Linked DNA regions of Homo sapiens: region 2 is linked to region 1. The links come from fine-mapping of genetic effects on gene expression. A gene starts in region 1. The other region holds a variant in brackets. All regions are shown on one strand. Distances are between the middles of the regions.

Region 1 (5,000 bases):
GAGGTGGAGGTTGAGGTGAGCTGAGATCGCGCCATTGCACTCCAGCCTGGGTAACAAGAGCGAAACTCCGTCTCAAAAAAAAAAAAAAGAAAGAAAGAAAGAAAAAGAAAAAGAAACAAATCTCTTGCTGGGCAAGAAACACGCTCCAGTCAGGAACCTGCTTCTAAACTTTCAATTTACACAGGAATGATTAATGACTCAATCACCCACAAGCAAATGGAGCTGTGTAATACACACGTCGAAGCAATTATACGGAATGTGTATCTAGAAAGCGTTTTAGTATCTGTAGGAGATATTCTTATTTGTTTGTTTAACATTATACTGTAAGCTTCCCATGATTTCTGTGTAAGAAACTGGGGACAGACGGCCGGGCGCGGTAGCTCACGCCTGTAATCCCAGCACTTTGAGAGGCCGAGACGAGCGAATCAAGAGGTCAGGAGATCGAGACCATCCTGGCTAACACGGTGAAACACCGTCTCTACTAAAAATACAAAAAAAATTAGCCGGGCATGGTGGCGGGCGCCTGTAGTCCCAGCTACTCGGGAAGCTGAGGCAGGAGAATGGCGTGAACCCGGGAGGCGGAGCTTGCAGTGAGCCGAGATAGCGCCACTGCACTCCAGCCTGGGGGACGCAGCGAGACTCCGCCTCAAAAAAAAAAAAAAAGAAAAGAAAAGAAAAAAGAAAAAAAAGAAATTGGGGTCAGACGGGATAGCAGGAGAGGGGGCAGGGAGGAAGAGGGGGAGAGAAACTGAAGATCTTTTTTTCTATGGAGTAAGAGGTCTTCCTCATAGGAAAAAGTCTACGTGGAATTTTTAACAGACCACTTCAAATTATCCAAGTCAATATCTGACTCGGGACCTCAGGTCCACACCATCAAACACTGCCCTGTTACGGAAACTCGATACATGTCGGCTTGCATGAATGAACCCATACATTTGAATTCCCCCGGGAGCAGTGTCTTGAAATTAGCCAGCAATCAGTACCGGTTGGTTGTCTGATCGTTGGATGTGTAGATGAATAAACGAACGGTTTGTCGTTTTACTTAGACTAGGCTACCGAAAAACATGCAAAAGTCTAAGTTACTTCCGAAGGGAAGTGAGGGGCGCGACCCGGGGAAGGTAGGGACTGCGGATTGCGGAAGGCCGAGCAGCGGGGCTCGGCGGGAGGGCGCCAAGCAGCTCACCTTCACGTGCTCATAGTAGCTCCCGGTGTTCAGCAGCCCGACGCCTCTGAACGCGGAGTCGCACTTCAGTCTGAGCAGCAGGTGGTCCACAACCCCTTTCACCATCCCCGCCGCCGTGGAGATATCATCGCGGCTGAGCTTCAACTTCTCCAAAACCGCCCGGAGCTTCGAGGCCCCAGGCGCCGCATCCCTCCGTACGAGAATGGGGGCCGAGACCGGCAGGCCGGGGCTGGGCACGTCCCAGGGCCCGGGCGGAGGTCTTGGCTTCGTGGAGCAGCGCGCGCCCCTCTGGCGGCAAGAACCAGCCCTGGAAAGAGCCGGCTCCCGAGCCGCAGGAGGCTCCAGCCCCTCTGCCCCAGGGGCGCTGGTGGCGTCAGACGGCTGCGTGTCCTGGGCGCGCTGAGGGGCCTTTTTGGCGCGGGCCCCAGTTGCGCGGACGGGCGGCCTCTCCTGGGTGTCCGGGGCGCTCTTTTTCTGCCGGGATCCCGACTTCCTGGCGGGGCCGAACTTTCCCGCCTTAGGCAGGGCGGCCTCGGGGGCAGCCGGAGACTCGGTGGGATCCATCGGGGCGCCCCTGGCATTCCGTGCGGAAGCCTTGGGGGCAGTGGCTCCGGCCTCGGAAGCTCTCTGCATGGCCTTTCCGTGCCAAGGCTGCATGGCTGGCGCTTTCTGTTCCCCGAAAGAAGAATCCGTTTCAGGAAAAGGCCGCAAGAGGAAGAGCCAGCAGCAGCTGTTGGAAACCAAGCACTACTGGCGGGCACACAAGAGTCTGCGACCCGAAGGGGAACCCCAGGCTGGGAAGTCGCTGGGAGCCACGCCCATGCCGCGAAGAGGCTGGCCGCGGCCTTTCCTGAGGCTACAAAAGTCTCGAAGTTTCTAACTCTCCAGGCAATCCGTGCCCCTGTCTTAAGAAGATGAGGTAGGGCCGGGCGCGGTGGCTCACGCCTGTAACCTCAGCATCCGAGAGGCCGAGGCAGGCGGGTCGCTTGAGCTCAGGAGTTTGAGACCAGCCTGGGCAACCCAGCAAGACCTGGTCTTTCTTATAATTAAATATATGTGTGTGTGTGTGTTGCCTGGGCACACTGACTCACGCCTGTAATCCCAGCAATCTGGGAGACCGAGGTGGGCGGATCACCTGAGGTCAGGAGTTCAAGACCAGCCTGGCCAACAAGGCGAAAGAAACCCCGTCTCTACTAAAAAATACAAATATTAGCTAGGCGTGGTGGCGGGCACCTGTAATCCCAGCTACTCGGGAGGCTGAGGCTGGAGAATCACTTGAACCCGGGAGGCGGAGGTTGCAGTGAGCTGAGACGTGCCACTTCACTCCAGCCTGGGCGACAGAGCGAGACTCTGTCTCAAAAAAGAAAAAGAGGCCAGGCGTGGTGGCTCACGCCTGTAATCTCAGCAGTTTGGGAGGCCGAGGCGGGCGGATCACGAGGCCAAGACATCGAGACCTTCCTGGCCAACATGGTGAAACCCCGTCTCTACTAAAAATACAAAAAATTAGCCGGGCTTGGTGGCGCCTGTAGTCCCATCTACTCGGGAGGCCGAGACAGAGAACTGCTTGAACCCGGGAGGCAGAGGTTGCAGTGAGCCGAGATCGCGCCACTGCACTCCAGCCTGGGCAACAGAAAAAGAGTCCATCACAAAACAAAACAAAACAAAACAAAAACATTGACAGAGAAACTTTTCTCTTTCAAGTGAAAGTTTTTTTAAATTTAATTTTGGTTTGAGTTAGGGGGGCGCAATCTCGGCTCACTGCAACCTCAGCCACCAGGGCTCAAGCGATCCTCCCACCTCAGCATCCTGAGTAGCTGTTACTACAGGTGCGGACACCATGCCCAGCTTTTTCTTTTCTTTTTAATTTTTTTGTATACATGGGGAGGTCTCACTATGTTGCCCAGGCTGGTCTCGAACTCCTAGACTCAAGCGATTCTCCCTCCTCAACCTCCCAAAGTGTTGGGATTGTAGGCATGAGCCACTGTGCCCTGCCACAGAAACTTTTTCTTTTCTTTTTTTTCTTTTTCTTTTCTTTCTTTCTTTCTTTTTTTTTTTTTTTTTTTTTGAGACAGAATTTCGCTCTTGTCACCCAGGCCGAAGTGCAATGGTGCGATCTTGGCTCACTGCAACCTCTGCCTCCTGGGTTCAAGCAATTCTCCTACCTCAGCCTCCCGGGTAGCTGGGATTACAGACGCCCGCCACCACGCCCGGCTAATTTTTCGTATTTTTAGTAGAGACGGGGTTTCGCTATGTTGGCCAGGCTGCTCTCAAACTGCTGACCTCAAGTGATCCACCCGCCTCGGCCTCCCAAAGTGCTGCGATTACAGGCGTGAGCCACGGCGCCTGGCCAGAAACTTTTCCCTTTTTTTTTTTTTTTTTCCTGAGATGGAGTCTCATTCTGTCCCCTAGGCTGGAGTGCAGTGGCACGATCTCGGCTCACTGTAACCTCTGCCTCCCGGATTCAAGCGATTCTCCTGCCTCAGCCTCCGAAGTAGCTGGGACTACAGGTGTGCGCCGCCATGCCCGGCTAATTTTTGTATTTTTAGTAGAAAGGAGTTTCACCATATTGGCCAGGCTGGTCTGGGACTCCTTATCTCGTGATCCACCTGCCTCGGCCTCCCAAACTGTTGGGATTACGGGCATGAGCCTCAGCGCCCGGCCAACTTTTTCAATGTAAATTTAAATAGGGTTTTTTAAAAATCAATAAGAAATAAAATAATAATTTTTAAAAAGAAAAAAATTAATAACAAATGAAAAATACTTTGAAAAAAGAAAAAAATAAGAAAGAGAAAATATTCAACTTTTACAAGATGGAATGAAACAAAGATTGACTGCAATTGGAGTAAATACTTCTATTTGACATTTTTTAAAAAGCACAGAAAATCTTTAAAATGTTGTGTAAAGTTTCTGCCTGGTGCGGTGACTCACGCCTATAATCCCGGCACTTTGGAAGGCGAAGGTGGGTGGATCACTTGAGGTCAGGAGTTCAAGACCAGCCTGTCCAGCATGGTGAAAACCCATCTCTACTAAAAATACAAAAATTAGCCAGGTGTGGTGGGCCATGCTTGTAAACCCAGCTACTGGGGAGGCTGAGACGGGAGAATTGCTTGAATCGGGAAAGCGGAGGTGGTAATGAGCTGAGATCAGACCACTGCACTCCATCCTGGGCGACAGGGCAAATGACTCTGTCTCAGGGGGAAAAAAAGTTGTGTAAAGTTCTCTCTTTTTATTTTATTTTATTTTATTCATTTTTGAGACGGAGTTTTGCTCTTGTTGCCCAGGCTGGAGTGCAATGGTACAATCTCAGCTCACCACACCCTCCGCCTCCCGGGTTCAAGAGATTCTCGTGACTCAGCCTCTTGCGCAGCTGGGACTACAGGCGTGCCCCACCATGCCCAGCTAATTTTTGTATGGTTTTGTAGAAATGTGGTTTCACCATGTTGCCCAGGCTGGTCCCCAACAAGCTATCTGCCCGCCTCAGCCTCCCAAAGTGCTGTTACTGGCATGAGCCACTGCACCGGACCTGGCATTTACATTTTAAATCATTCATACTGCTTCAGCTGTTGTGATTCTAGAGTATCTCAATACAGGCTTTCAAATATCTTTTTTTTTTTTTCGAGATGGAGTTTCACTTTTGTTGTCCAGGCTGGAGTGCAATGGTGCTATCTCGGCTCTCTGTAACCTCCGCCTCCTGGGTTCAAGCGATTCTCCTGCCTCAACCTCCTGAGTAGCTGGGATTATAGGCGCCTGCCACCACACCCAGCTAATTTTTTTACCTTTTTAGTAGAGACGGGGTTTCACCATGTTGACCAGGCTG
Region 2 (5,435 bases), 27 kb before region 1:
CTCCAGCCTGGGCGACAGAGTGAGACTGTCCCAAAAAAAAAAAAAATTGCTTAGATTATTTTATTTGCATAGTGGTTTATTTATCATTAATTGTCCCCAAAACTCTTCAAATGTCTAATGTTTCTCTTAGTATGTTCAAACATAGTAGGCTGTTAAACAAGATGTATAAAGCAAAAACCATAAAAAATTCAACTCCAATTTATTCTCAAAAGCTTGAATGAGAAAAGAAATCAACTCCATTAAAATTTAAAAATCTTTACAATAAACAAAACAATACAAAACAAAAAAACCTTGTTTACTAAAAGACACCAAAAAATGTGCAGACAACCCATATGGCAGAAGTTATTTGTTACACAGACAACGAATGAAAGATAAATACCCCAAATATATTAAGAACTTCCCAAAACAATGAGAAGAAAACTAACCCATAAGAAAATGTGCAAAATATATGAACAGGAAATATTTAACAAACAGCAGTTGCCTCTAGGCTGAATGCTACCTAAAATAAAAAAAGTGTTACTGAAAGTAAAAATAAATAGATAACAGAAAATAAGTTAGGTTTTACATTTAGTCACGTATATTAAAATAAAGTATCTTATGTTTTCTTTTAAGATTATGTATTTCAGCCAGGCGTGGTGGCTCACACCTGTAATCCCAGCACTTTGGGAGGCCAAGGCGGGCGGATCACAAGGTAAGGAGATCGAGACCATCCTGGCTAACATGGTGAAACCCCATCTTTACTAAAAATACAAAAAATTAGCCGGATGTGGTGGCGGGCACCTGTAGTCCCAGCTACTCGGAAGGCTGAGGCAGGAGAATGGCATGAACCCAGGAAGCAGAGCTTGCAGTGAGCCAAGATCATGCCACTGGACTCCAGCCTGGGCGACAGAGCGAGACTCCATCTAAAAAAAAAAAAAAAAAATTATGTATTTCCTGGCCAGGCACGGCGGAGAGCTGTTTTTCAGTAAGAACTTGATGAATTTAATTAAGGCAATATGTACTTTATCTTTTTTTATTCCAACCTAAAAATGTCATTTATTTATTTATTTGCCTGCATGATAAAGCAAACATGGTAATGTTTTTAGATTTCAAATACTACTTTTGCTTCTTATTCCTTGACTAATCTTTTTCCTAGGATAGTCAATCCTTTATACTGATTAGAGTTTATTACAACAAACTGAAAACTGAATAATTATTTACATTCATTTTAGTCAATTATTGCTGTGACAAATTTCAAACATTCCAATTATTACAGTCACTAATTTTTGTTATTTTGTTGCTTTTCTAAAAAATTATTTTAATAATTTCCTAATTTATTTTTCTTATTTATTTATTTATTTTTTGAGAGGAAGTCTTGCTCTGTCACCCAGGATGGAGTGCAGTGGTGCCATCTTGACTCACTGCAACCTCCACCTCCTGGGTTCAAGTGATTCTCATGTCTAAGCCTCCCGAGTAGCTGGGATTACAGGCATGCATCACCATGCCCGGCTAATTTTTATATTTTTAGTAGAGATGGAGTTTCACCATGTTGGTCAGGCTGGTCTCAAACTCCTGACCTCAAGTGATCCGCCTGCCTCGGCCTCCAAAGAGCTGGGATTACAGGTGTGAGCCACAGCGTCTGGCCCCTTTTCAAATTTTTCTTGTATTCTCCAGGATTTAGGGTGACTCTAGTTCTTAGATCTTTCTAAAAATACAATCTCAAAATTCATCAAAAACTGGAAACTCATTGTTTCTTTCATATTCAATTTGCTTTGTCAGAAATTCCTTACTTCTTTTGTCAATTAAGTTGCTAGAGAATAGATTGAATTCAGGAATAAAATAATTCTCAAGTTTTTCTGTCCTGAGGCACTGAAGAAAGTATGTCACGCAGTTATCAAAGCAGAGGCCCAGGTCTTTGCGGTCCCACTGACTGTCTTGAGGGTTCTGGGTACATACGTGAAAGAAGGCAGTTTTCACATGATAAGAAGAGAATTTATCCAGATGTTTTTTGTCTTTAAACCTTTCTTTCAGCTGTTCTAAAAGGTATTTCATTAGTTTTAAACAATCTTTCCTGTTGAATAAAAAAGGAAAACACTTATTTTTACTTATTTACATTCAACAAAGGATTTTAGGCATCTCATAGCAAAAATATAAACAATAAAGATATATAATAACATAAATATAGGCCGGGCGTGGTGACACAACGCCTGTAATCCCAGCACTTTGGGAGGCTGAGGCAGGGGGATCACCTAAGATCAAGAGTTTGAGTCCAGCCTGACTAATATGGTGAAACCCCGTCTCTACTAAAAATACAAAATTAGCTGGGCGTGGTGGCGCACGCCTGTAATCCCAGCTACTCTGCAGGCTGAGGCACGAGAATCGCTTGAAGCCAGGAGGCGGAGGTTGCAGTGAGCCAAGATCGCGTCATTGCACTCCAGCCTGGGCAACAAGAACGAAACTCTGTCACACACAGAAAACAAAAACAAAAACAAAAAAGCCGGGCGCGGTGGCTCATGCCTGTAATCCCAGCACTTTGGGAGGCCTAGGCAGGCGGATCACGAGGTCAAGAGTTCGAGATCAGCCTGGCCAGTATGCTGAAACCCCATCTCTACTAAAAATACAAAAATTAGCCAGGTGTGGTGGCGTGCACCTATAATCCCAGCTACTCGGGAGGCTGAGGCAGGAGAATCACTTGAACCCAGGAGGCAGAGGTTGCAGTGAGCCAAGATCATGCCACTGCACTCCAGCCTGGGCAACAAGTGAGACTCCATCTCAAAATAAAATAAAATAAAATAAAATAAAATAATAAAATAAAATGAAATAAATGAAATGAAATGAAAT[G/GATAAA]ATAAAATAAAATAAAATAAAATAAATACAACAGTCACACTAAAATCTGATTATGTTTTCAAATATATGGTTTGAAGTTTCAAAAACACATTTTTTCCCTCTCTTTCCCATTCTTAGCTTAAATATATTCTATGAATTTCTTCAACTGTATAAAGCTAACAGATATTTATACTATTTTTTTTTTTTTTGAGACAGGGTCTCACTCTGTCACCCAGGCTGGGATGCAGTGATACAATCTCGGCTCACTGCAACCTCTGACCCTCCCCTCACCCCCCTCAAGCGATCCAAAATCTTGTTTTGTTATAAAATTATTTTACTTTATTGAACTGCAAATTTAATATAAATTTTTTCTTTTCTAAAATCCACTGATTGTATCACAGAATTATTTACATTATTAAGAGTACCATAGATAATCTGCCATCTCATCTAGTTATTTAGTAGTTGACAAAATGTACTATTTATGAAACTATTTAGCCTTATCAACAATATTTCTTTTTTTTTTTCTTTTTCCTTTTTTTTTGAGATGGAGTCTCGCTCTGTTGCCCAGGCTGGAGTGCAGTGGTGTGATCTCAGCTCACCGCAACCTCTGCCTACTGGGTTCAAGCGATTCTCCTGCCTCAACCTCCTAAGTAGCTGGGATTACAGGTGCATGCCACCTCGCCCGGCTAATTTTTGCATTTTTGTAGAGACGGGGTTTCATAACGTTGGCCAGGCTGGTCTCGAACTCCTGACCTCAGGTGATCTACCTGCCTCGGCCTCCCAAAGTGCTGGGATTACAGGCGTGAGCCACTGTGCCTGGCCAACAATATAGTTTTCTTAATGCTTACTTCAAAGCCTGCATATGAGATCTTAAAGAACCTCTGTGCCTGCATGTTGGGCATTTTTGTTTTGACTTTTTAACTTTTGTGATCTTTATACTGGCCAACTTACTTTATTTATTTATTTATTTATTTATTTATTTATTTATTTAAGATGGAGTCTTGCTCTGTTGCCCAGGCTGGAGTGCAGTGGCATGATCTCAGCTTATTGCAACCTCTGTCTCCCGGGTTCAGGTGATTCTCTTGCCTCAGCCTCCTGAGTAGCGGGGATTACAGGCACGTGCCACTGCGCCCAGCTAATTTTTGTATTTTTAGTAGAGACGGGGTTTCGCCACGTAGGCCAGGCTGGTCTCGAATTCCTGACCTCAGGTGATCCACCTGCCCTGGCCTCCCAAAGTGCTGGGATTGCAGGCCTTGAGCCACCATGCCTGGCCAATACTGGCCAACTTTAGAAACTCAAATGAACAATTCCTTTTCAATCTTAGTTCTTTATGGTGTGTATGCCATCACAAAAAAAAATGGTGGGGTGCAGTGTCTCATCCCCGTACTTCCAAGACTTTGGGAGGCCAAGGCGGGAAGTTTACTTGAACCCAGGAGTTGGTGACCAGCCTGCCTGGGCAACAAAGGGAGACCACCATCTCTACCAATAAAAAAAATTTTTTTTGAGACAGGGTGTCACTATGTCACCCAGGTTGCAGTGCAGTGGCACGATCATGGCTCACTGCAGCCTTGATTTTCTGGGCTCGAGCCATTCTCCTACCTCAGCCTTCCAAGTAGCTGGGACCACAGGCACCAGTCACCATGCCTGGCTAATTTTTAAATTTTTTATGGAGGTGGGGTCTCACCATGTTGCTAGGCTGGGATTACAGGTGTGAGCCAACAGGCCCTCTACAAAATTTTTTTTTAAATTAGCCGAGCATGGTGGCATGCACCTGTAATCTCAGCTACTTGGGGGGCTGAGGTAGGATGATTGCTTGAGCCCAGGAGATCGAGGCTGTGGTGAGCCGTAATTGTGCCACTGCACTCCAGTCTGGGTGACAGAGTGAAAGTCTGTCTCAAAAAAAAAAATTACTCACTTAGTGTTGTTTTCAGTTTGGCCAATCAATCCCTAGCCGTCAACACAACCCAACTATCCCAAAGCAAGCCCAGTATCTAATAAGAGCGACCTTTTGGCCTCCTCCAATTATATGGCATTAATATCCATTACTTTTAAACAAGCAGAATACTAAGACCCATCGAATTGTCATGGCTAGTGCTCATACCCTCTCACTCTGTCCTACTGATACATCTATACAAAAACACATTCATCTGATCCAGGGTTCAGAACTACTATTCCCCGGCCTTGCCTTCTAACAACACCCTTTCCTTGGCCCTTTGGATCTAGCTTCTCTGGTTTCATACTCACACTCTCCCCAGCTCAACCCAATCCTGCCCTGCCCCCCAGACCCAACCCAGCTCAGCTCTTCAGGTCTGAGGTGTGGAGTCAACAAATAATTAAGCATACCATAGATAATCTGTCATTTAACAAAATAAGGCTGTTACCTGCAACATTTCTCTTCTTTGTTTTCACAGCACGTTTTAGATTTTCCATGATTGTTCAAAATTTCCTTTTCGATGTGAGAGAAGGATAGCCGCCATGTTTCTTCTTAATTTCAAAAAGAAAAACAAAAAAGCACTTTACCCAAAGCATCCATATCTAAACAATATTCAAGTGGTTTCCCTCATGAAAATATCCTGGGGCTGGGCATGGGGGCTCACGCCTGTAATCTCAGTACTTTGGGAGGCCGAGGAGGGTGG

The links. PIP is the estimated chance that this variant, and not a neighbour inherited with it, causes the effect.
Region 2: its variant is fine-mapped to the expression of CGAS in whole blood (INTERVAL, PIP above 0.99).

What each region holds. Positions count from the first base shown.
Region 1 is chr6:73,450,342-73,455,341 of GRCh38, forward strand. It overlaps CGAS (cyclic GMP-AMP synthase), which reads right to left and starts at 1,956. Exons shown (of 5, transcript NM_138441.3): 1 at 1,184-1,956. The coding sequence starts at 1,840. RefSeq lists a silencer at 1,378-1,587 and an enhancer at 1,758-2,237.
Region 2 is chr6:73,423,529-73,428,963 of GRCh38, forward strand. CGAS (cyclic GMP-AMP synthase) reads right to left here. Exons shown (of 5, transcript NM_138441.3): 4 at 5,181-5,283; 5 at 183-2,050. The coding sequence ends at 1,699. Among named protein-coding and RNA genes, the nearest start is that of CGAS, 26 kb to the right of the region's middle. The variant G/GATAAA (reference allele first, on the strand shown) is at 2,821.